4 separate regions of the Homo sapiens genome follow, and all the other regions are linked to region 1. The links come from fine-mapping of genetic effects on gene expression. A gene starts in region 1. Each other region holds a variant in brackets. All regions are shown on one strand. Distances are between the middles of the regions.

Region 1 (5,719 bases):
CGCGCCCGGCCGCCCGCGGCCCCGGCGCTATTCGGCCCCTGCCCCAGTCCCCACTGCTGCGCCGGGACGTTCGAGGGGGCGCCCGGCCAGCCGCGGCTCCCAGCGCGAACTCGTCTCCCACGCCCCCACAGCCCACGGTGGCCACTGCCCTCCCAACCCACCGGGGGCTGGGGTTCCGAGTCCTGTCACGGTTGTCCGCCCTCAGTTCCACTCTCACTTGGGCGAGTGGCCCCCGTCGCGGCTTCTCTCGGGGCTAAGGTCGGGTCCCCGGCTGCCCTGCCCCCGCCTCCGTCCCCCGCCCATGGTCTCCCGGTCCCGCGGCGCGGCCAGGCCGCCGCCCGCCGTACCTGGTGGTGGTTATAGGAGTTCCTCTGCTGCAGGAAGGCGGCGGCCGCCGCCTGGTGCTGCTGCTGGAGCTGCGGGCTGACGGGCGACCTCCGGCTCTGCGGCTGCTGCGGCGCCGCGGGCGGCGGGGGCTGCTGTTGAGGTATATTCATGGCGGGCGGCGGCGGAGGGGGCACAGCGGTAGCCGAGAAGGGGCCGCCGAAGCCGCCGCCGCCGCCGCCGCTCGTCGGAACGCTGAGCCCAGTGCAGCCGTGCGGCGACACGGGCGAGAAGCTAGGGAAGAAGGCCGGGTTCATGGACGACGGCAGCCCGGGGTAGAAGCCGTTCTCTGAGTCGGGGCTGGGCGGCGGCATGGCGCTGAGCGAGCCGCCGCTGCCGCCGCCCGGGGTGGTGGCAGACGAGCCGGGCGGCTGCGGCTGCGGCTGGGGCGGCTGCTGGGGTGGCGGCGGCTGCTGCTGCGGCTGGGTCGGCGGCGGCTGCTGGGGCTGGGGTGGCGGCGACGCGGTCTGCACCGACCAGGGGGTGCCGAAGCCGGGCAGCGGCGGCGGCGACGCGGAGCCGCCTCCCCCTCCGCCTCCTGGGGGCCCCCCGCCCCCGCCGCCGCCGCCGCCGCCCGGGTGTGGAAGGTCCGGGCTCTGCAGGCTGCTGAAGGCGCCCGCGCCAAGCGCACCTCCGGGCAGGAGGTTACTGGGACTGTTGAGCAGAGGGTGGTTGGGGGACTCCATGGAGCCCGGCGCGGGGTTCACCGGCGTCGAGGAGGCCAAGCCCGCATTGGGGGACTCGGCGGCGCTGCCCTCGCCCGCGGCTGGGGTCTTGCGAGGGCTGCCCGCGCCTCCGTGGCGGCGCCGCGGGGCTGCAGGCGGCGAGGGAGGGAGCTGCGGGAGCGGGGGCAGGTCTGCCGGACGCTGCCGCGGGGCGAAGTCCTGCGGCGAGAGGTGCTGCTGATGCAGGAGGCTGAACTGCTGCGGCGGCTGTTGCTGCTGGCGCTGAGCGAGCTGCGCCGGCTGGAGGAGCGGGCCGGCTGGCGGCGGCGGCGGGCTGAACCGACCGGGGCAGTGGAGCGGCGGAGGCGGCGGCGGCGGCTTCGAGTCCGGAGGGTGGGGAAGGTGGGGAGGGCTGAACTCTTTCCTCTTCTGGCTGCTCAGCTGCTGCTGCTGCCGCTTACTGAAGTCCTGCGGGGAGGAGGTGCGGCAGCAGCAGCAGGAGGAGGCGGAGGAGGAGGAGGGGTGGTGCAGACTCGGTTTGAAGTCCTGGGAGGGGAGGAGGTGGGTCACACCCGCGATCGTGCCGCCGCCGGGGTGGTGGTCGGGGAGTTTCTCCGTGGCCGCCGCCCCCGAAAGCGGCCGCGCCGGCTGCTGTGTCAGCCCCAGAAGCAGCTCATCCTGCATGGTCTGCTGATGCGCCAGGAACGGGGAGGAAGAGGAAGCGGCGGCGGCCGGGCTGCCCGCGCCGCCGCCGAGGGGGACGGAGAAGGGGGAGGCGGCCTCTAAGAAGCCGGTGACAGGCAACGGTGGTGGCGACAGTGGGCCGAAGGGCGTGGCGGAGGGCAGCGGGTTGACGGACCCCACGGCGTAAGGACCATACGCCTCGCCGCAGAACAGGGGCCCAGGACTGCTACTTCGGAGCGGGGCGGTCTGCAGCACCCCAAACCCGAAATCCCTCATTTATCAGGCCGCCGGCAGCGGGAGGAGACGCTCCTCGTCCCCTGCCCCACCTAGGAAGCCGCCGGCGCTGGGGTTGCGCGGCCGTGGTGGAAGGAGGGGGAGTCAGTGAGAGAGGGACACCGTGACTGAGCCAGGGGGCACCGACTTCGGCCCCACCACCCCTCGCGGCGATCGCCGCCGCCGCCGCCGTCGCAGTCGCCGTAGCCGCCCTGGCCGCTTAAGAACCCCGGAACGTGCGTCAGCGCCACCTCACAATCGCGCCGCCCCCCGCGGTGCGTCCCGGCACGCGCGGGCGCGAGGCCACCGCGTCCCCGTCGCCCCTCCCCGCCCCTCATTACTATGCAGACGCAGCCGAGGGCGCGCTCGCGCTCCCGGGAGGGCGGGAGCGAGCGGCGTGTCCCGTTGGGTCTCTCCGCTCCCGGGGAAATGGACAGGCCGGTTGGGGTGGGGGTCGGCTGGCAAACAGTGGTCGGGAGCATTGGGCGGGCGCGCGCACGAGGGCAAGCACGCGCGGGAGGGAGGGACGGTTCCTGGGCAACGGCCCCTCCTTGGCGCGGGATCCGCGCAGAGTCTGCCTGGGTCGCACGCGTCTCCGCCCCTCGCGGTGCCTCCTCCTTCCTGTCACCTCGGTTCCGCCCTGGGTGGGGAGAAGCCCTGCTGCACCACTCGGGCTTCCCAGAGCGGGGCTGGCCCGCGGGGGAAACTGAGGCCCGGGACCCCGACCGGCGCCTGCACTGTGCGACCCGCGTAGAAATAGGCGCCCGAGGGGCCCCCAGCGCAACGCGGGAGCCCGGCCCAGCCCGGGGGTCCTGTGGTGAACTAGCGTCTGGGCTCTGCCGGCTTGAAGTCCGCTGAGCGCCTCGCCGCGCACCTCTAGACCCCGAGTCCCCGATCTAGGGCCTCCTTGTAGCCCTAGGTAGCGCCCTCTAAGCTTGTTTCTGTTTTTAGGCGCTGGTAGGAGTGCTGTCACCGACGTCGTAGAGCCGCCGAGGGTGTTTCTGTAGGGTAAACATGAAGCCTCGGCTATATTCCAGGCATTTTCACTTGGGTAAGAAGGAACAAAGTCCCTGGAACAAACACGCTCCGCGTGGTTATTTACACACTCGGATGCGTGGAACGGGTTCCACGGCGAGCTCCCATAGTAACCCCGGGCCAGCTCCGCTTCATAAAAGCCTTTCGTGTGCCATCAGGGCTGCAGCGTGGGACTCCTCCCCACCACATTCATTCCGGCGTCCCCGCCCCTTCCCCCCAGGGAGACTCTAATTTATTCCTAAGCTTTATGAATTTTCAAGGGAGAAATAGTTCTTACATCAGGGAAAAAAGGAGGTTCTGACTCAGCAGCAGACTTGTTGAGACTTGCAAAATGGAAGGGAGAGAGCTTTCCATGGTAGAGCTCTTTAGAAGCATTAGAGGAGGAACTAATCCTGTGTTTCCTTTTGTATAGAAACATTTTACATAAAGTATTTGAAGGTCTAGATAAAGAATAACAGAGTGATCCATACTACATGATGAGGTGAACTTTATGTTTCTGTTTTGTAATTTTAACTGTTTTGCTTGATGCTTAGAGAAATGAAACTATTAAATGAATCCTAGAATATAGACTCAAACCCCCAAAGCAATAGAAGGTGGATTCAGACTTTACTTGATTTTGGTTTACAAGTGAACTAAGATTAAATATTTAATTTTATAAATTAGCATACTCTTACTGATGTAGGCAGAGTGTACATTTTTATAAGTCCTCATTCTCTATTTGAATTCTACTTCTGTTCAGTGTCTCAAATTTATATAAATCGAAATAAACATGGTAGAAAGAGAGCAACATTGCCCCAGGGAACTATACTTCATGTATAATGTTTATCTCTGCTATCCTGTCCAATGAACCAAGTTTTATGTTGCCTTTACAATAAGGAAAAAGTACTTTTTAAAAAACTCAAATGGTTCAGAATTTGGTCAGGTGAATAGAAAATTGGTTCAACTTATTAATCTCAAAATCATTTTTAACAGTCAGGCAAAATGTAGAACTGGAGAAGTATTTTTATTCTAAATTACAATGTCTAGAAAATAACCTGAGCTCAGAATTTAAAATATAAATGGTTATTTTCAGAGTATATATTGACATATTAAATATTCATTTTTTAAAAGGTATTGTGCAGGAAAAAAAACTACTTCTGCAACTAAGGAATGTAAAGTCTTAACAACGGATGATTTTTTTCCAAGTACAGTTGTATTTGATTGGAATCATTTGCAGATCCAACAACAAATCTTGAAATAGGGGGAAAATACAGGTATAAACCTTAGCTCAATTATCCACTAACACCGCAGTTAGTAAAGAGGAGAGAGCACATACTTTTAAAAGCTAACTGGTGCCTTTCTGGGCTAGAGTTTTGAACAAAAACAAGATTTCTTAGTGCTCTGGTACTAGTTTTGTCTTAGAGGATTTAGAGCTCTCTGAAACGGGGAAAAGCCATCAAGTTTGTTATTACATAATAATGTCAAACTTCATATTAAATACACCAAATTCCAAATCCTGCCAGGGCCTCTACTCACTACTTTTGTGAGGGCCCCATTTTTTTAGAGCAGAAAGTTACTTTCTGACATCTTGTAAGCTGGTGATCTTGCCCTTATTGAAAATATTCAAATGAAAAGGTTTCCTAGGGTGGAGAGTGGAGTGGGGTAGGGAGAAGGAGCAGCAAATACTGAGGAGGGACTATGGTCCTCTAGCAGTTTCCATGCCAAGATCTTATGAGTCCATTCAATGATTTTTTTGGTTTTTTACATGAAAATATTTTGACTCATGATCATTAACTAGGACCTTGACTTTGTATTTGACAGTCCCTTATTCATTTACTCCCACTGTCCTGGGCAAGTATTTTTAAAAGTATTTTTGCTACAACCCAATATATGTGCAAGTACACACTCATGCAACTGAAATAAAGCTGCTATTAAGCAATTCTTTTAATAATGCAACAAACTCCTTTTTATAATTCTATTTTCATTTTAAAATCACGTTTGATCTCAAATTACAAAGTTGGTTTTAACACCCTCTATCAGATTATGAACTGAAAAACCACTGTCCTAGACCATTTCAAACATTCTGCTCAATCTGAAAACCTCTTGTCACATCTCTCCTACATGCATCTGCTAGCATGTAGCACTCTCAGCTGCTGAGCTACATGCTTATTTCACTGAGAAAAAAGAAGCAACCACAGGAAAACTTCCACAGTCTCCCTGCATCTGTCCCTGCACACCTTGCCTTCCCTCTCGATACAATGGATGGCCCATCTGCCCATACTCCTGTCTAAGGCCAGCCTCTCCACTGGCGGAGCAGATCCTACCTCTAACCTACTCAAGACATGGGCTCCAACAGTTTTCTCTCTCTGTCCTTCATCATGACCTCTTTCCTCTCCAGGAAACACTTCCATGTGCACAAAAACTTGCTTTACTAGTTCTCACCTTTGAAAAGTAAAGCCAAAACCTTTTGACCTTATATTCTCCCTCCTTTAGCTACTGCCTTCTTTTTCTGCTTTTACATTGCCTGAACGACTTGCCCATTTGACTGAGTGTCTCATAGATACCTCAAATTAAACACGTCAAAAATTAAACTCCCTGCCTCACTAGGCCCAATCCCTGTGGCGCTCCATTGTTCTGGTTGCTCAGGCCAAAAACCCTGGAGTCATTCTTCACTTCAATCCACTTCTGTCCTTCTTGCA
Region 2 (5,719 bases), 88 kb before region 1:
GCATTCCAGTTCCCCAGAACTATCCCATGCACATATAGGCACTTGATGCATGACAAAGGTGACATCCAGAGTAGTGGGAAGTGGCTTTTTAAAATACACATGCTAATTCAGCTGAATATTCACTTAAAAAAAAAACTTTACTGCTACCTTGCACCATATAAAAAATGTTCAGGTGAATTGGTGAAATAAATGAAGTTAAAACAGTGAAGCTTTCAGAACACTATATAGGTTCATATCTTTGTGATTTTTGAAGAGTTAAAATTTTCCTAACTAGGTCATAAAAAGATACAACAATAAAAAAGTATGATAAATTGGAATACATTAAAATTAACTACTTTTATACACAAGAAATATTATGAAATGCCTAGCCACAGATGGGAGAAGATATTTGCAATTTATGTATACAAAAAAAGACTTGAGCTAGAAGACATAAAGAATTTCTACTCGACAATAAGAAAAAGACCAATAAACTTTTTTTAAAAAGGGCATCTACAAAAAAAGATATCAAAATGGCTAATAAACACAGAAAGGTGTTCATCATTAGGCATTAGGGAAATATAAAATTAAATCAAAATAAATTACCACCATATGCTTACCAGAAAGATAAAAATTTAGAAGACTGACATACTAAGTCTGGGTGGAATTGTAAAGCAATGGGAACTTCATACCCAGCTAGTAGGAATATTAATTGGTACAATGACTTTGGAAAATAGTGTAACAACTTAGGTTGCATATAAGCATCACCTGTTACCTGAAAACTCCTATTCCTAAGTATATTCTTGACAGAAATGTGTGTATATGTGTACCAGGAGACCTGTGTAAGAATGTTCATAGCAGCCTTATTCATCATAGCTCCAGACTGGATGCAACCCAAACGCCCATCAGCAAAATAGCAGATAAATATACGGTTTTTTTCTTACAATGAAATACTATTACAACAAAAATGAACAGACCACAGCTACATATGATATGTATGATTCTCACAAACAATATTGAAAGGAATCAGAAAGAAAACAAACATCCTATATTATTTCATTTGTATAATGTTAAAATTACACTTTTGCTTTTAGAGGTTAGGATAATAGGTATCTTTGAAAAGGAGGAGCATGGCGGGGGTGCCGGCAATATTTTATTTTGTGACCTGGGTGGAGATTACATTGGTGTTCACTATGACTGAATAGTGATAAAGGAGCAAAAAGAGTGAAAATCATGAACAAAAATATCAGAAATTATGGATAATAATAGGCTTGGAGCAGAGTACTTAAAGTCTATGTGACTTTGTAAGTGGAATTATCTAAACAATAATTGATGCTTAGGCAGATACCCGAGACAGTGCTGATAGGCAGCTCGGTGAGGTTGTAGGCTGACTCAGAGTAAAACAAAATTGCAGAAAAACAACAGACTGAAAAAATGCTGGCTACTGAGACACAAACAATGCAGATGGAAGGCAGGCTCTGAACCAGGTGGGCCCAGAAGAAGACATAACCTGCCACAAGCCAAGAGCCAGGAACCATGCAAGGGAGTCTTGAGTGTTGATACTTGTTTTTAATATCCTTAAAATAGAGCTGACAAGTGCAAGCAGGACATACACTAAGATAAGTCATATCCTGGGCCATAAAACAAACCTTAACAAATTGGAAAGACGAAATCTTACAGTGTGTTCTCCATTCACCATTGAATCAACCTGAAAATCAATAGCAGAAAAACAACAAGACAATCTTCAAACACTTGGAAACTAAGCAATCAAATGATCCATGGAACAAAGAAAAAGTCTGAAAGGAATTAAAAAACAAAACAAAACAAAAAACATTAAATCAAATGAAAACAATTTACAACATGTCAAAATTTCTGGAATGCAGCTAAAGCAGTGCTGAGAGGGAACTTTATAGCAATAAATTCATTCGTTAGAAAAGAGGAAAAGCCTCAGATCAATAATCTAAGCTCTCATCTCATGAACTGGGAGAAATAAACTCAAAGCAAGAATAACGGAGGAAATAAGTATTAGAGTAGAAATTAAATAGAAAACACAAAAACAATAGAGAAAAATCAATGGAGCAAAAAGCTAATTCTTTAAAAGAAACAATAAAATTGACAAATCTCTATCAAGGGTGACAAAGCAAAAAAGAAGGAAGAAATCACCAATATCAGAAATGAAAAAGGGGATGCCACTACATACCCTGAAAATGTCAAAAGGATAACAAGAAAACAGTATGACCAATTCTATCTGCGTAAATATGACAACCTAGACTAAAGGGACCACTTCCTCAAAATACAAATAACCACAACTTGCCCAAGATGAAATAAATAATTTGAATAGCCTTATAATTATTAAAGAAATTAAATTTGTAATTTAAAACTCTCCATGCCCAAAGAAATCTCCATGCCCAGAAAGTTTCCCTGGAGAATTTTACCAAATGTTTAAAGAAGTTACATCAATTCTACATAATCTCTTCCAGAAAATAGAAGAGGAGGGAACATTCTCAATTCAATTTCTGAAGCTACTATTACCATGATATTAAAACCAGACAAACACTGTGCAAAAAAGAAAACAGCTGACCAATATTCCTCAAGATTATAGATGTAAAAATCGTGAACAAAATACTACAGATAATTCAGTAATATATAAAAGAAATTATATACCATGACCAAGGAAGATTCCTTCCAGGAGCCCAGCGCGGTGGCTTATGCCTGTAATCCCAG[A/C]ACTTTCGGAGGCCGAGGCAGATGGATAGCGAGGTCAGGAGATCGAGGCCATCCTGGCCAACATGGTGAAACCCCATCTCTACTAAAATACAAAAAATTAGCCGGGCGTGGTGGTGCGTGCCTGTAATCCCAGCTACTCGGAAGGCTGAGGCAGGAGAATTGCTTGAACCCCCGAGGCGGAGGTTGCAGTGAGCCAAGATGGCGCCACTGCACTCTAGCCTGGCGACAGAGCAAGACTCCGTCTCAAAAAAAAAGAAAAAAAAAAAAGATTCCTTCCAGAGATATAATGTTGCTTCAGTATTCAAAAATTAATCAAATAATCCCCATATTAACAGTCTACTGAGGAAAATCACAGGATCGTATAAATTGTTGCAGAAAAAGCACTTGATGAAGTTCCACACCCATTAATAATAAAAACTCCCAGAAAAAGGAATAGAGGAATAGAGGGAAACTTCGTCAACCTGATAAAGAGCACCTAGAAAAAAACCTAAAGTTATGTTTAATAGTTAAAAACAATAGTTTTCCTCTAGGATCAAGAACAAGGCAAGAATGTTCACACTCACCACTCATGCAGCATAATGCTATGTAAGTTTTAGTCAGTGCAATGAGGGAAGAAAATAAAAGGCATACAGATCAGAAAGAAAGAAATTAAACTGTCCCGTTTGCAGATGACATAACTGTCACGTAAAAAATTCCGAGGGAAGCTACAAAACAATCTCTAGAACTTTTAAGCAAGCTCAGCAAAATTGCAGGGTACAAAGGTAAACATACAAAGGTAACTTACAGGTAAAAATAGAGGTGAACACAGGTAAACATACAATGATCAACTTCATTTCTATATACTAGCAATTGACACATGGACACCAAAATAAAAAGTAAAATACTATTACAAACATTCATACAAAAAGATAAATATTTATGTTAAATTTAAGACATGTGCAGGACTTGTATACTAAAAGCTATTAGGTTGGTGCAAAAGTAATTGCGGTTTTTGCCATTTTTTTTTTTTAATGGCAAAATGTGATGAAGGAAATCAAATGCTGATGAAGGAATGCATGCTGATGAAGGAAATCAAAGATCTAAATATATGGGGAGGCATATATTGTGTTCATGGAGTGGATGACAGCACAGTAAAATGTCAGTTCTCCCCAAATTGATATACAAGTATAGCACAATTTCTCTCAAAATCCCTGCAAGATATTTTGTAGACACTGACAAGATTATTCTAAAATGTATTTGAAAAGACATGAACTAGAACAGCTGAAACAATTTTGAGAAAAGGAGGATAAAAAGATAGGAATCTGTATGTCCGGTTTCAAGGAGTTATATAGCTACCATAAACAGGATAGTGAGGTATTTGCAGAGGGATAAACAGATAAATGGAACAGAATAGAGAACCTAGAAATATCTACACACAAATATGCCCAATTGATTTTTATAATGGTGCAAAAGTAATTCTGTGGAAGAAGGATCATCTTTCAAAAAATGGTACAAGACCAGTTAGAAACTCACTGGAAGAAAGGAGAAGGAGAAAAGAAGGAAAAAGAGAAAGACCTCACCCTAAGTCTCAAACTTTGTACAAAAATTAATTCAAAAGAGATCACAGACTTAAATGTGAAATGTAAAACAATAAATCACTTATAAAAAACAAAAAACAGAAACAAAAACAAAACAAAACAAAAAAACAGGAAAAAAAAACTTCAGGATCTAGGGCTCCACCAAGAGTTTTTAGACTTGATACCAAAAGCACCATCCATAGAAAGGAAAATTTGATCAATTTTACTTCATTAAAATTAAAAACTTTTGCTCATTGAAAGACCCTGTTCAGAGGATGAAAAGGCAAGTTACAGAATTGAGGAAAATATTTGCAAACCATATATCCTATAAAGGTCTATTATGTAGAATATACATAAACAACTCTCAAAACTTAACAGTAAAGAAAAATAAGCAATCCAATGACAAAATGAACAAAAGACATGAAGAAACATTTCACCAAAAAAGATAAACAGATGGCAAAAAAATGTATAGAAAAATGTTCAACATCATTAGCCATCACAGAAATGTAAATTAAAACCAGAATGAGATATCTTTACATACCTACCAAAATAGCTAAAATAAAAAATAGTGATATGGTTTGGCTGTGTCCTCATCCAAATCTCAACTTGAATTTTATCTCCCAGAATTCCCATGTGTTGTGGGAGGGACCCATGGGGAGGTAATTGAATCATGGGGGTCAGTCTTTCCCTTGCTATTCTCGTGATAGTGAATAAGTCTCACAAGATCTGATGGGTTTATCAGGGATTTCTGTTTTTGCCTCTTCCTGATTTTCTCTTTCCACCACCATATAAAAAGTGCCTTTTGCCTATTGCCAAGATTCTGTGGGCTCCCCAGCCATGTATAGCTGTAAGTTCAATTAAACCTCTTTTTCTTCCTAGTCTTGGGTATGTCTTTATCAGCAGTGTGGAACAGACTAATATAATAAATTGGTACCAGTAGAGTGGGGAATTGCTGAAAAGATACCTGAAAATGTGGAAGCAACTGTGGAACTGGGTAACAGGCAGAGGTTGGAACAGTTTGGAGGGCTCAGAAGAAGACAGGAAAATGTGGAAAATTTGGAATCTCCTAGAGACTTGTTGAATGGCTTTGACAAAAACACTGATAAGGTCCAGGCTGAGGTGGTCTCAGATGGAGAAGAGAAACTTGTTGGGAACTGGAGCAAAGGTAACTCTTGTTATGTTTTAGCAAAAAGACTAGCAGCATTTTTCCCCTGCCCTGGAGATTCGTGGAACTTTGAACTTGAGAGAGATGATTTACGGTATCTAGTAGAAGAAATTTCTAAGCAGCAAAGCATTCAAAAGGTGACTTGGGGGCTGTTAAAAGCATGCCATTTTAAGAGGGAAACAGCATAAAAGTTTAGAAAATTTGCAGCCTGATGATGCAGTAGAAAAGAAACCCCACCCCCTGCTTTTTTTTTGAGGAGAAATTCAAGCTGGCTACAGAAATTTGCATAAGTAGCAAG
Region 3 (5,719 bases), 41 kb before region 1:
TGCTTATGGTCTTCTGCTTTTTGATTTTAGAAATTATCACTTGATCTTGACTCCAAACACTTCATTTCTCTGCATTGTTATGAAAGAAACCCAAATCAAAATTATTGACCCTACTACAAGGCAACAAGAATAAACCGTTACACAAAAATGCTACTCCCATGAGTCTAAATTAAAATGTATATACGCTCATATATATATAATATGTATGAATATGTGTATATATACACACATATGTACAGGTATTTATGACAGATATTTATGTACATAAGCACTGATACATACATATGAATGAAAGGCAAATTGAAGTTTTGTAATAGAAAATACAGATAAAACATCTGAGAATTTAGAAGCAGAGAAGATTAATTATAACCCAGGCTGGAGTGAGATTCTAATTAAAGGTTCTTTAAAAGAGAATGATTTACAAAGAATGAGATAGTTATAGACAGAAAAGGATAGAGGAGAAAAAGAAGTAGAGGGAAAAAGCCTTCCTTCGGTAGAAGATATTTGCTTAGCCAAAAGCACAGAGAAATATTCCAAAGGCCATATTAAGGTAAAATACAGAAAACAGGAGATATTCTTAACTATGAGTTCAAGAACCCTACCTACAAATGCAAGTATAATAGCTTACATTAAGTTTGCTACCTAAAATGTATAATTTTAAAGGCAAAATAGTAGTTATAATAAAGATTATAGATGAATGAAGTAATAAGAGAAGGAAGAGCAAAACGAGAATAATGGCTATCCCCTATGGTCTCTGGTCTCCGTGTGTGTGTAGGTGTATGTGCGGCACACATCCATGTATGTTAGAGAAGTTATAGGTGGTTACTAACTCTGACACTGGGCGCTATGCTAATGTTACCAAACATTAATTTAAAAAACTATCAAAACAACAGAAGTATATTTCAGATTGATCTATTTTCAGCATTATCTGTTTAATCAAATACACTCGGGTATGATTCTGCAAATAACTGAGAAAGGCACCATAATGTACACACTAACGGCTTAAAAATGTTTTGCTCCAATAGGTTTGTACCTTTCTCATTAAGGATAAAGAAGATAATTTACTTAAAAAATTTATAATCTATGACCTTATATGTCTTTGTAAATTTTATTTAATTTCTAGATATATATGCTTTAAAATTAGGTTTACTAAAATTTGTTTTCTATAAAAATTCATATTGCTGGGTATAGGTGTAGAGCAGACACTACCAGTCTCTTAAAGGTTAGGAAAGGGAGGTCAGCAAATTTTTTTCTTTAAAGGGTCAGTATTAAATATAATATTTTACATTTTGAAGACCAGACATTTTCTGTTGGAATTACTCAACTGTGCTATCATTGTAGTTTCAAGGCAGCCAGACAAAAGTCAATGAATAAATACTGGCTGCATTTCAATAAAACTTTGTTTACAAAAACAGAAGCCTTGGCCTGCGGGCCATGGTTTCCTGACCCCTGTATTAGTGTTACCCCAGCTTTTTTTTCATGCTTCAGAGATCTTGCCCACTCTCTCACAATTATTGAAGTTATTTATCAAGGATTTCAGCCTTGATTTCATCATAAAAATATCTGGCAGTGATGTTATTAGGGAGTGTACAGTTACCCTGGGTACTTCACAATTGTTCCAAATTGAAAATCCTGGATCAACTTCAAAGCAGTATACTATATTATTAATAATTCCTTATTTATTATAGCACGTAAGTCTGAATGACTATACACTATGAATAAATCAAACTTCTCTAATTAACCTTTCCATCATTTGTCTCCCTTTAAAATTATTTCTCCTATCTTCTCATCCCATATGTAATCTACTAACTCAAGCTCTGGGTTTCCTTGCTTAAAAGGATTGCCTTCCGGGTCTTAGAACCATTAACTAAACTACGTTTTTATTTATATTACTAAAAATATTCTATATATTTTTATTCCTTTTGGAACACAGTAGCCCTTTAATCCTTTATTAAAGGAACTTATTGTGCTATAGAAATAGTTTAAGTTGAAAGGATCGAACTTAAATTACACTTCACGCCTCCCTTCACAACCCTCATCCTACTTCAATCCTGGACAAGTATGTTCACTCTCAGAATGGAATGGAAGAAACAATGAATAAAAAATAAATACAAATGATAAGTAGTTTTCCATATATTAAAGTCAGCTCCCCATATGAACCGTTTTCCTTCCTAATGCTGCCCCCTAGGCAGCTCTAAAGTAGAACTCTTTATGGCTACCAGGGGATAGAGATACACAGTAGTGATAGTAGGTTCCAACTAAAAAGCAGGGACAGAAATCTCTGCTTTTCTTAACTACTACTAGCATAATTACATTTTGATTATTCCTAAAGTATATTTCATAAATTAATATCTGGAGCTAGCTTTATTTAAAGTTCTTATTGACATTATTAAGAAATTCAAGTACATAAAGTCATTTTGGTAGTAACTTGATTTGACTGTAGTCAAGTGAGAAATCTTTTAAATGAAAACAGTTTCGTGCCTGGGCTGAAAGAAGAAAAACAGTTCTTCCTGAACAGGACTACAAAAGTCAAAGTCAGAATGTCCTGTGAAAATAACTGTTCACCCATTATTGCACTGGTAGAAGAGCCATGACTTATTTTTAGCAAAAATTATATCAACTCAGTGTGACACATCCGACATGAACAGAAGATAAGCAACTCATTTTTCACAAAATAATTACTAAATAAATGCAGTTTCTTTGATGGATCAAATCTAACACATGAGGCTATATAAAAGGGGGTGTTTGGTGGTTAAAAGGTTATCAGTCTGAGGTTTATTATACCTAGCATGGAATAGGAAAAAACAGTAAAAAATAGGAAGAAAACCAGGTGACTAGCCATTTCTGAGTCATTCCTTTGGTATGCAGGTTTTAAAAAAATTGCATTACTTACCGTTTCAGTGTACTTTAAAATTCAGATAAAATCTCTCAGTAGTTATTTCTAATGAGTGTGCCTTTCACGTGACTCTCACAATCAAAATTTTAAAAGTAGACTGCTAGTGTTCATAATTTACTAAGGCCATATAATTTGAGATGAAAATTCAGGCATTCACTCCCCCTTATGCTAAGCCAAATATGTATGCCAACCATCAGTTCTGTCGTAATGGAAGCTTTTATCAGAAGCCTTAAAACCATGTGAGAGTCTTCCTTCTTCCAATGCAGGAAGGCAGTTCTGAAGCCGAATAAGTCTTTATGGCTTACGGGGGATAGAGATATATAGGAATGATAGCTGGTTCCTATATAAAAGCAGGGAAAAAAATTTTGTTTTTTCTTAATATAATCATAATCTACAATTATTGAACTGAGATGAAGACAAATAATAACATTACTTCCTAATACCTTGTTCCTAAGAACTTCTTAGGTCATGATATTTACATGAGAGCATACGAAATTAGACTAAATGTAAGTCACAACAGGTAAAAGATGAAAAATGTTTAACAAGGCAAGAATTCTGAATTGCTCTATAGTTTCAAAATGCCTAAAAATCACAGA[C/T]TGGTAAGTGGGTTGTGTTTCAGAGAACTGAAGCTCCATTACTAAAATTGCATAGTGAAATAAGCTAGTCCATAGATTTGAAAATAGGTACTAAACTTCTAAACTGCTCCCCCCTTCTCAGCTTGCTAAGTTTTTAGAAAAGTTGTTCAGCTTCAATTTTTTAAGTCTTGAGTGTCTGTCTCCTCTAAGTTTTTAGTTAGAAAACTGAAGAACCAAAAGATTCAGTCAAGCATTTGAAAAAACCATATTAAAAAATTAAGTTAAATTCAGATAATCTGAAATATAAAATTGGGACCACTTAAGAATATAAAATACTAGTTTTGGTTGTCAGTCGTGGCAAATGGTTTTGCTTGTTTGTTGTTTAAAAAGTACACACATTCATGACTAGTTGAAAAGAAATGGAAGCACTGGCACATGTCTATAGGTGGCTCATGCCTGTAATCCCAGCACTTTGGGAGGCCGAGGTGGGCAGATCACCTGAGGTCAGGAATTCAAGACCAGACGGGCCAACATGGAGAAACTCCATCTCTACTAAAAATAAAAAATTTAGCTGGGTGTGGTGGCACATGCCTGTAATCCCAGCTACTTGGGAGGATGAGGTAGGAGAATTGCTTGAATCCGGGAAGCAGAGGTTGTGGTGAGCCGAGATCGCGCCACTGCACTCCAGCCTGGGCAACAAGAGCGAAACTCCGTCTCAAAAAAAAAAAAAAGTGATCAAAGGGCACTATTATTCCTGTCTATCCTCTATGGCTTAAGGGAGATTTTTAGAGGTCAAAGAAAACTCTTTTTATTCGGTGTGGCACTTGGAATAAGCCTAACAATATAAACATCATGATTATTGCTCATTTAAAGAACAATCTAGTAGCATACTTTTGCTTCCTCTCATCCCATCTACTAGTCTGCACATGGAAAAGGGAGAAGCAAAGTTTTAGCCACAGAAAACATCAGCTACTTTCCTAGGAAGTTCAATAATAGTCTTGCATCACATAGTCCTCTTTCCTTAGGATACCACACAAGAACTCTGTGGGGAATACTTTTGTGGGGGAGGGAAAGGAAAAAGGAAAGGGGAGAAGGTATGTGTTTGTGTGTGTGTGTGAGAGACAGAAAGGGAAAGAAGGGGTTATATTCTTAGAAAACAGAGAAATATAAGCAACATGATTTCTATAAATCACTGTTAAAAATAATCTATTTGGTGTGTGTTATTTTCAACTGGGTCAACATAAAACTAACAATCTAGAGCTGTAAATTATACATCATAAATATGACAGTTACACATTTAGAGAGCAGAAAAATCATACTTCATGCTAACTTCACTAATATTAAACATATTTAAGCAGACAAACCATAAACAGCAGCTTTATTTTAAGAGATACAGAAGTAACTTTAAAAACTAGAGTTAAATCTCAGCAGTTTAAAAGGGGAAAATTTATTAAATAACCACAATTAGTATAAAAATACAGTTCAAAGGTTAGGAGATTTAAAATTAAAAACTTCGACAAGTGCTCAAATCAAAATACAATTGTGTGAGTTTTCAGATATTGCATGAAAAATCTAGAGTAATTAATTACAACATTGATCAGTAAACCCCATTAGAAACAATTATACCATAGCAAACAGAAATGAATTACCTCGTCTTCGCCCATAACTCCTTGCTGCATGTAAACAAAGCACAAATTGTAAAATGTCAGAACTAAAAATAAGCCCACATATACAAATATTTCTGATACGAAAAGCTATGTGGGCATCTGAAAATTAGTGCTACTTTGTTTTAAGAGCAATGACAATGTCACCATATAAGATTTAAATGTTTTACCATTCTACAAAGGACTTTTATTTATAGGTAAATATATATCATCTGAATCATATAAAACTCTGAAATTAACAAGAAACACACATTTCATTATCATTTGTGTTAAAATTCACAAGTATTTGTTTCAGCTAATGAAGACAGAAATATACAACACTTTGCGGTAAATAGCATCCCAAATAATTTTCCCAATGAATGGAAACAACTTGAACTAAATGCTTATTTTTTCTACTTATTATAAAGAATGGTATGGCATATATAGTCCAATAAATAGCTGTTCAGATCCAATCTACATTATACCAAGTCCTGCATGGAAGTAGTGCTAGAAGACACAGATGACTGAGAAGATATACCACCATTAAACTGATACTCTGAAGCCTGTACAGATTAGACAGGATTTAAGAAATCAATGTTAAACTT
Region 4 (5,719 bases), 54 kb before region 1:
TGTTCCACCTCAGATCATCAGGCATTAGATTCTCATAAAGAACATGCAACCTAGATCACTCGCACGTGCAGTTCACAATAGGGTTCGCATTCCTATGAGAATAGAGTGCCATCTCTGATCTGACAGGAGGCAGAGCTCAGGCAGTAATGCTGGCTTGCCTGCCACTCATCTCCTGCTGTGTGGCCTGGTTCCTAAAAGATCATGGACCACCAGTACTGGTCCACTGCCCAGGGGTTGGGGACTCCTGCTATAAATTATCTGGATGTTTCAAAAACTAAAACTCAACATGGTAGTTTAATTGTTCTTTTATTAATTAACAATCATTTCAAAACAATTTTTGAAAAATTTGCATTTGTAGCCTGAAGTTCATGTGGTATTTACTTACTGGTTTGTCCTTGATAGTAGGGCTAGAAACACACAGATAGAGTTTTCCATCTTCTTCAATACAAGCATCAATGAGTGCCTGAACTGAGCTCTCTTCTTGAAAGAGAAGAAATGCATAGCCTGGAATAACCATTAAAGATGAGGCAATATGTCAAGCCAAGTGATTTTACTCCAAATTTCAGTACTATTTAGAAAATACATGCTTTTGAAAAAAAAAAACAAACTATCAAATAGGATGAAAAACCATTTACCTTCTACAAGAGAACACAATATCTTATGTAATACACATTAAAACAGATACTCAGTAAAGCAATTGGCTACTTTATATAGAACACTTGCTATCAGATACTGTATTAACTTACATGCATTAGTATTTGATTCTCAAAAGTCTATGAAATATTATTCCTGTTTTACAGAAGAAAAAAATCAAAGTACCACCAAAGTCAGTCTCATAGTAAATGGTTGAATAATTTCAAACCGAGGTCAGCCCCAAGGTCTCCCATGCGCTTTCTAGTAGTGATACTACCTTCTTAAAGAGCTTGGCAGAATTAACCAGGTGAGTATATCTGGAGCTAGAGTTTGCTATAAATGCCCTCAGGTTAATCCAAGTTCTAGACTTTTAGACTGGAACGCACTTGGAAAGGTCCAGGAAATCCCCTAAGCAGAGGAAACATTCCACAGTCTCATGAAAACTTCCCAATGATACTAAGAAAGCTACAGTAGGAAGGCTGGAATGAAACATGTTCCTTAATAAAACATGGGTCAGATGGATCAAAACTTTTAAATCAAGCCTCAACTTGGAAAGCAGTGGAATACATTTTTCAAACTGTCTGGAGACTATCTAGACTTGTAAACAACCAATTGTCAATCTTTAATAAAAAATCATGTATCCAGCAGACAGAATAGACTACATTATAAAAAGAAGGCATCAAAATTTACACTGCAAGTTTACTATTATGTGATTATTCCCAGCAGGTGATAGCTATAAATGATCTATCCATTACCTTGGCAAGATTTCTATGCGAACAAATGTACAGCATTTTAATCTAGTCCCAGTACAAAGCAGACATCAGGCAAGCCATGTATGTCTGTTCCATCGTATAATGGGAAATGTAAGGTCATGTTTTACTGAAGTCAGAAAACTCAGCTTATTGTCAACCATAGCTTTATGCCACAAAAGTCTGATGTGACACTAAAGTACTTCATTTTAATAAAATAAAAATACCTGTTTGCATAAAAAATACCTGGAGCCATTTCACCTTATATAAATGATTTCACCCTATATAAATACAAACTTCCAAAGGTAAGATTACACAGGATTAAAAAACATGTCTTAGATTTTTTACACTGCTGGAAACAATTTCAATATTCTTGAAAATAATGAAGATTTTTTTAAGGCTTTAATTTTGATACAAAATAATAATCTGGGAACTACAAGTATTTTGTAATAATTAAAAGGATATAAGACCAATTTACTAAAATAGTATATTAAATTCAATATTTTAATGTTGGCCAATTTTCATAATTTTTGATATTAATATTTTAATATTGCTTAATTTAAAGTAATACTCTAAATTCAATATCTTTAATATTGCTCAATTTTTGTTATTATTAGGGAATGTTTATATTACAAAAATTAAGCCATATCAGGTAAATTATGACTTACCTGATGCAAGTCATTAGATATTAAAATATTCTTAACAAAAACATACTACATAATAGCTTCTTTCGAATTTGTTAAAGCAAGCTAATAATCACTTAAGGTGAAGGTTATTCACTGCAAAGGAAACTTACGTACATGTGTGGCTTAGCATCTAAGGGACTCTAGTCACTGCTGTAATTACAAGGTAGCTTCACCCACTGGATGCTTCTATACCAGTGTTTTCCAAACCATGGAAAATGCTGAATTACAGAAATAA[T/C]AAAATTGCTTGAAAGAACAAGGTTTGGGGATACTGGTCTTTGGAAATGTCTACATTTAACTGTAATTGTACCAAAAAAACTATGATTTGCCAGTGCCAATTTTATTTTTTCGATTAGAGAAACTAAATACTGCAAAACCACAATAACGATAGCAACAATACCAATAAAGACAACAACTATTCTGTTTCATTAAATATGTTCCATCCCATCTTTCTAGGCTTAAAGTACACCATCCTTGTAAGTGAACAAGTAGCTCATGCAAAAATCTGCATCTTTCTCCATCCAAACAATTTCTAATTCCTTTTTAAAATTCTATTTCCATTCCTGCCTGGAACGCTGTTCAAGTGCTTTTTATCTATCTATATACAATACCTTAGATTAATTCCAAACCTCTCAGTGAAGCTTTCCCCCATCTACTTGAAGTAATTTCTCCACCCTATAGTATTTTTTGTTATCTCATTTATTAGGCAGTTAACAATCCGTGAATTATTGAGAATATGAACATTCACAAAGGTGAATAAAGACACTATTTTACAGACCATTGAAAGAAACTGACATTAATAAAATAATTACAAATGTTTAAAGTTGTAAAAATGTAATACTGCAACTGTGATGAGTGCTAGGAGTGAAAGACACAGACAGCACTAGGAGTTGGGCAGGAGGAACTGACCTCATTTGGTAGATCCTCAATGTTTTCTGTGATCAACTTACACTTAAGCTTGAGATACAAAAGATAAGTAGGGAATATATAAAGAGACCTAAGGAAGAGATACAATCAGTCTAGAGAGTATCATACATAAAAGCACTGAGGCTGGAGAGAACAAGGCCAGTTTGTGGGACTGGAAGGAAACAAGCAGCAATAGTAGAAGAAGCTAGAAAGAAGGCAAGGCCAGGCAGAAGGAATGCATTTTTGCTTTTATCCTAAAAATAAGAGAAACCATTAAAGGGTTTATGCAGGTAAGTAAGGAATAGCACCATCCAATGAGTTTTCAAAGACTGCTGTGACTGGACGATAGGAGAAAACTGAAGAGGGCTAGAGATGTGGAGAGACTAGAAAGACAGCTGAAGCAGTCCAGGCAAGTGATGATGGTAGCTTAGTCGGGAACATTACAAAATAACTCAATACTCTTGAGTATTCAATAAAAATGGCATTTATAAAGTAAACTTTATGAAATGGCAAGAGAGTAAAACTATGGACAACACTAAAACTAAGCTAATAAATAAACATCTCTATCTATGTGGAGATAATTTCCTGTCTATACCAAGGTTTTGTGACCTCCAATGAACTCCAGACTACATGGAGAGAGGTAGATAGCTTTAATCAGATTCTCATAGAGGCCTGGGATCCAGAATCCCTACTCAAAAGATGCTCTTGATTCCCTACATACATATAGAATCTGCAAGTATTAAAAAAACATTGCATTACTCCATTTATCTAAAAAACTATGTGAACTATTAGTGAAGGTTCTATAATTCTCAATGGCAGAAAGTAGATATGACTCATATAATTCATCACCAGAAACCTGTACCTAGTTTTTATGTGCTAATAACTTCTTTATCATGCTTCATTTCCCAGAGTCAAAATCAAACCATTTAACAGTTCTATTGGGGTCTTTTCTCCAGGCTTGACAATTCACTAAGTCATGAAACTGAATAGTATGTGTGGTGTGCTTTTTCTAAAATTATATTTCAGCAATGTTTAAAGTAAAGTCTTAATCTTTGAACCTCCCCTCTTTTTTTTATTCATTTCAGAGAACCTTCCATTAGCAATTCTGACTAGCTGAATTAATGTTCAAGACTCCTTTCTCCTCTCTTCCTCTTGTTATTGGGGGCAGGATATACTTCCTCTCCCCACAGATGGTGACTTGATCATGCGACTTGCATGTGAAGGTTAGCACAATTTGTAATTCTTGTCCTGTGGTGATCAGCCACGGTGTCTTCCTAGCAATAACTGACTAACATAACTAAGCATCTTCCTCAAGTTTTACATCTTTATATAATTGAAAAAAAAAATAGACCCAACTAGCTACTTTGTCTTTTATCTAAATTATTTATTCATCAACAGTTGGTAATAATTTCTACTGCTCTGCTGTTATCTAGAACATTTAATGTAAATCTGATATTTCAACTGTTCATAAATTTATATTTTATGAAAGACCAATCACTTCACATAGATCTTAATTTCATAATGCAGAGAGATATTGTTTCATATGTCTATACCCAAGTTACTTGAAATGATGCTTTAGACAGAGAAAATACTCAAACATTTGTTGATCTGAGTCTATGAAATTATCAAATCATAGCAAGTCTCTTATGATTCCTAACTGGCTAAGTAATTGCTATTCTTTCTTTTGCTCTCATACAACCAATTTCCTAGCAAATATTAACAATAACAATCCTTACCTTTTGGTGGAAAATAGGACTTGCTTTCTGCTTTATGAGGCCAATCTACTACCAAAGGCCCAAATCTTCTGAAGCTAGCAGTTATTTCATCTTAAGAAAGTACAATAATACACATTAGAAATTAGTTTCAGTGATTCGTTCTAAGAAATTCTGTACTGTTACTATGAAGATTTAACATTTAAAAGTGCCAAATACCTTAAGATAAATTAGAATATAAACACTGGGAATATGTCTAATATACTTATTAAAATAATATGTCAAGATTAACAATTTTTGTCAAAATAAATTCACTTTTAAGCAATGCATTGGTTAGAATACTCAATTCCATGTGAATTTTAAAATTTTATATAACATTGTATGGATACTAATGACTTTATAGTACACCAAACCACAAATAGCACTGGATTGAAAAAAATGCCAACATATATAAATAAAATCTATTACTGCTTCACAAATAAAATCATTTTATTATAGGAAAAAAGGTCTGCTAAAACAAGACTTGAATAACTACAATGTTGAAAAAATATACAAGGGTCTGATACATGCCTGGTAGTTTCACTGAAATCCACATAGGTTACATCCAATTGCTATGTCTTACGTTATTTCATTACATAGAAAGCTTATGAAGATCAATACTTAGAATTAAGTTTGTGGATATCTGAATCATAACTAAAAAATTTCCTAAAATGTAAGAATGAGTGATACATTTCCCATAACCTCACAAATATAGCTTAATATTTTAAGTCTTCAATTAATTTTCTTTTGTTATCACATACAATTACTAGTGTTTGTGAAACCCTAATTTCCTATTCATGTTCTGTTTCCATTTCCCTTTCGGGTTTAATAGCCTCTTTCTTCCCTGTTTCTAAGAGCACATTTATCCTTAAAGAAATTAAACTTTTGGCCGGGTATGGTGGCTCATGCCTGTAATCCCAGCACTTTGGGAGGCTAAAGTGGGCGGATCATGAGGTCAGGAGATCAAAACCATTCTGGCTAACACAGTGAAACCCCG

Direction of the effects. Alleles are on the strand shown, and positions count from the first base shown. SD is a standard deviation of normalised expression in the study named. Not every link is listed here.
As copies of A replace C in region 2, the expression in monocytes of the gene that starts at base 2,202 in region 1 goes down (small effect, 0.37 SD a copy in Quach 2016).
In carriers of allele T in region 3, the expression in esophagus mucosa of the gene that starts at base 2,202 in region 1 tends to be higher than with C alone (small effect, 0.31 SD a copy in GTEx).

The links. PIP is the estimated chance that this variant, and not a neighbour inherited with it, causes the effect. A credible set is the group of variants that fine-mapping cannot tell apart.
Region 2: its variant is the best candidate, but not a certain one, in a credible set for the expression of CPEB2 in monocytes (Quach 2016, PIP 0.81).
Region 3: its variant is the best candidate, but not a certain one, in a credible set for the expression of CPEB2 in esophagus mucosa (GTEx, PIP 0.76).
Region 4: its variant is the best candidate, but not a certain one, in a credible set for the expression of CPEB2 in whole blood (TOPMed, PIP 0.83).

Annotation. Positions count from the first base shown.
Region 1 is chr4:14,998,964-15,004,682 of GRCh38, reverse strand. CPEB2 (cytoplasmic polyadenylation element binding protein 2) reads right to left here and starts at 2,202. Exons shown (of 12, transcript NM_001177382.2): 1 at 348-2,202. The coding sequence starts at 2,009. CPEB2-DT (CPEB2 divergent transcript) reads left to right here and starts at 2,638. Exons shown (of 8, transcript NR_038857.1): 1 at 2,638-2,745; 2 at 2,958-3,057; 3 at 3,454-3,522. RefSeq lists enhancers at 1-322, 3,164-3,213 and silencers at 1-363, 744-953, 1,054-1,203, 1,254-1,563, 2,064-2,923.
Region 2 is chr4:15,086,559-15,092,277 of GRCh38, reverse strand. The region is part of intron 2 of C1QTNF7-AS1 (C1QTNF7 antisense RNA 1); the gene reads left to right. Among named protein-coding and RNA genes, the nearest start is that of CPEB2, 87 kb to the right of the region's middle. The variant A/C (reference allele first, on the strand shown) is at 2,701.
Region 3 is chr4:15,039,889-15,045,607 of GRCh38, reverse strand. It overlaps CPEB2 (cytoplasmic polyadenylation element binding protein 2), which reads right to left. Exons shown (of 12, transcript NM_001177382.2): 6 at 5,121-5,144. The region is part of intron 2 of C1QTNF7-AS1 (C1QTNF7 antisense RNA 1); the gene reads left to right. Among named protein-coding and RNA genes, the nearest start is that of CPEB2, 40 kb to the right of the region's middle. The variant C/T (reference allele first, on the strand shown) is at 3,493.
Region 4 is chr4:15,053,206-15,058,924 of GRCh38, reverse strand. CPEB2 (cytoplasmic polyadenylation element binding protein 2) reads right to left here. Exons shown (of 12, transcript NM_001177382.2): 8 at 4,708-4,797; 9 at 386-504. All of the region lies in intron 2 of C1QTNF7-AS1 (C1QTNF7 antisense RNA 1), which reads left to right. Among named protein-coding and RNA genes, the nearest start is that of CPEB2, 54 kb to the right of the region's middle. The variant T/C (reference allele first, on the strand shown) is at 2,304.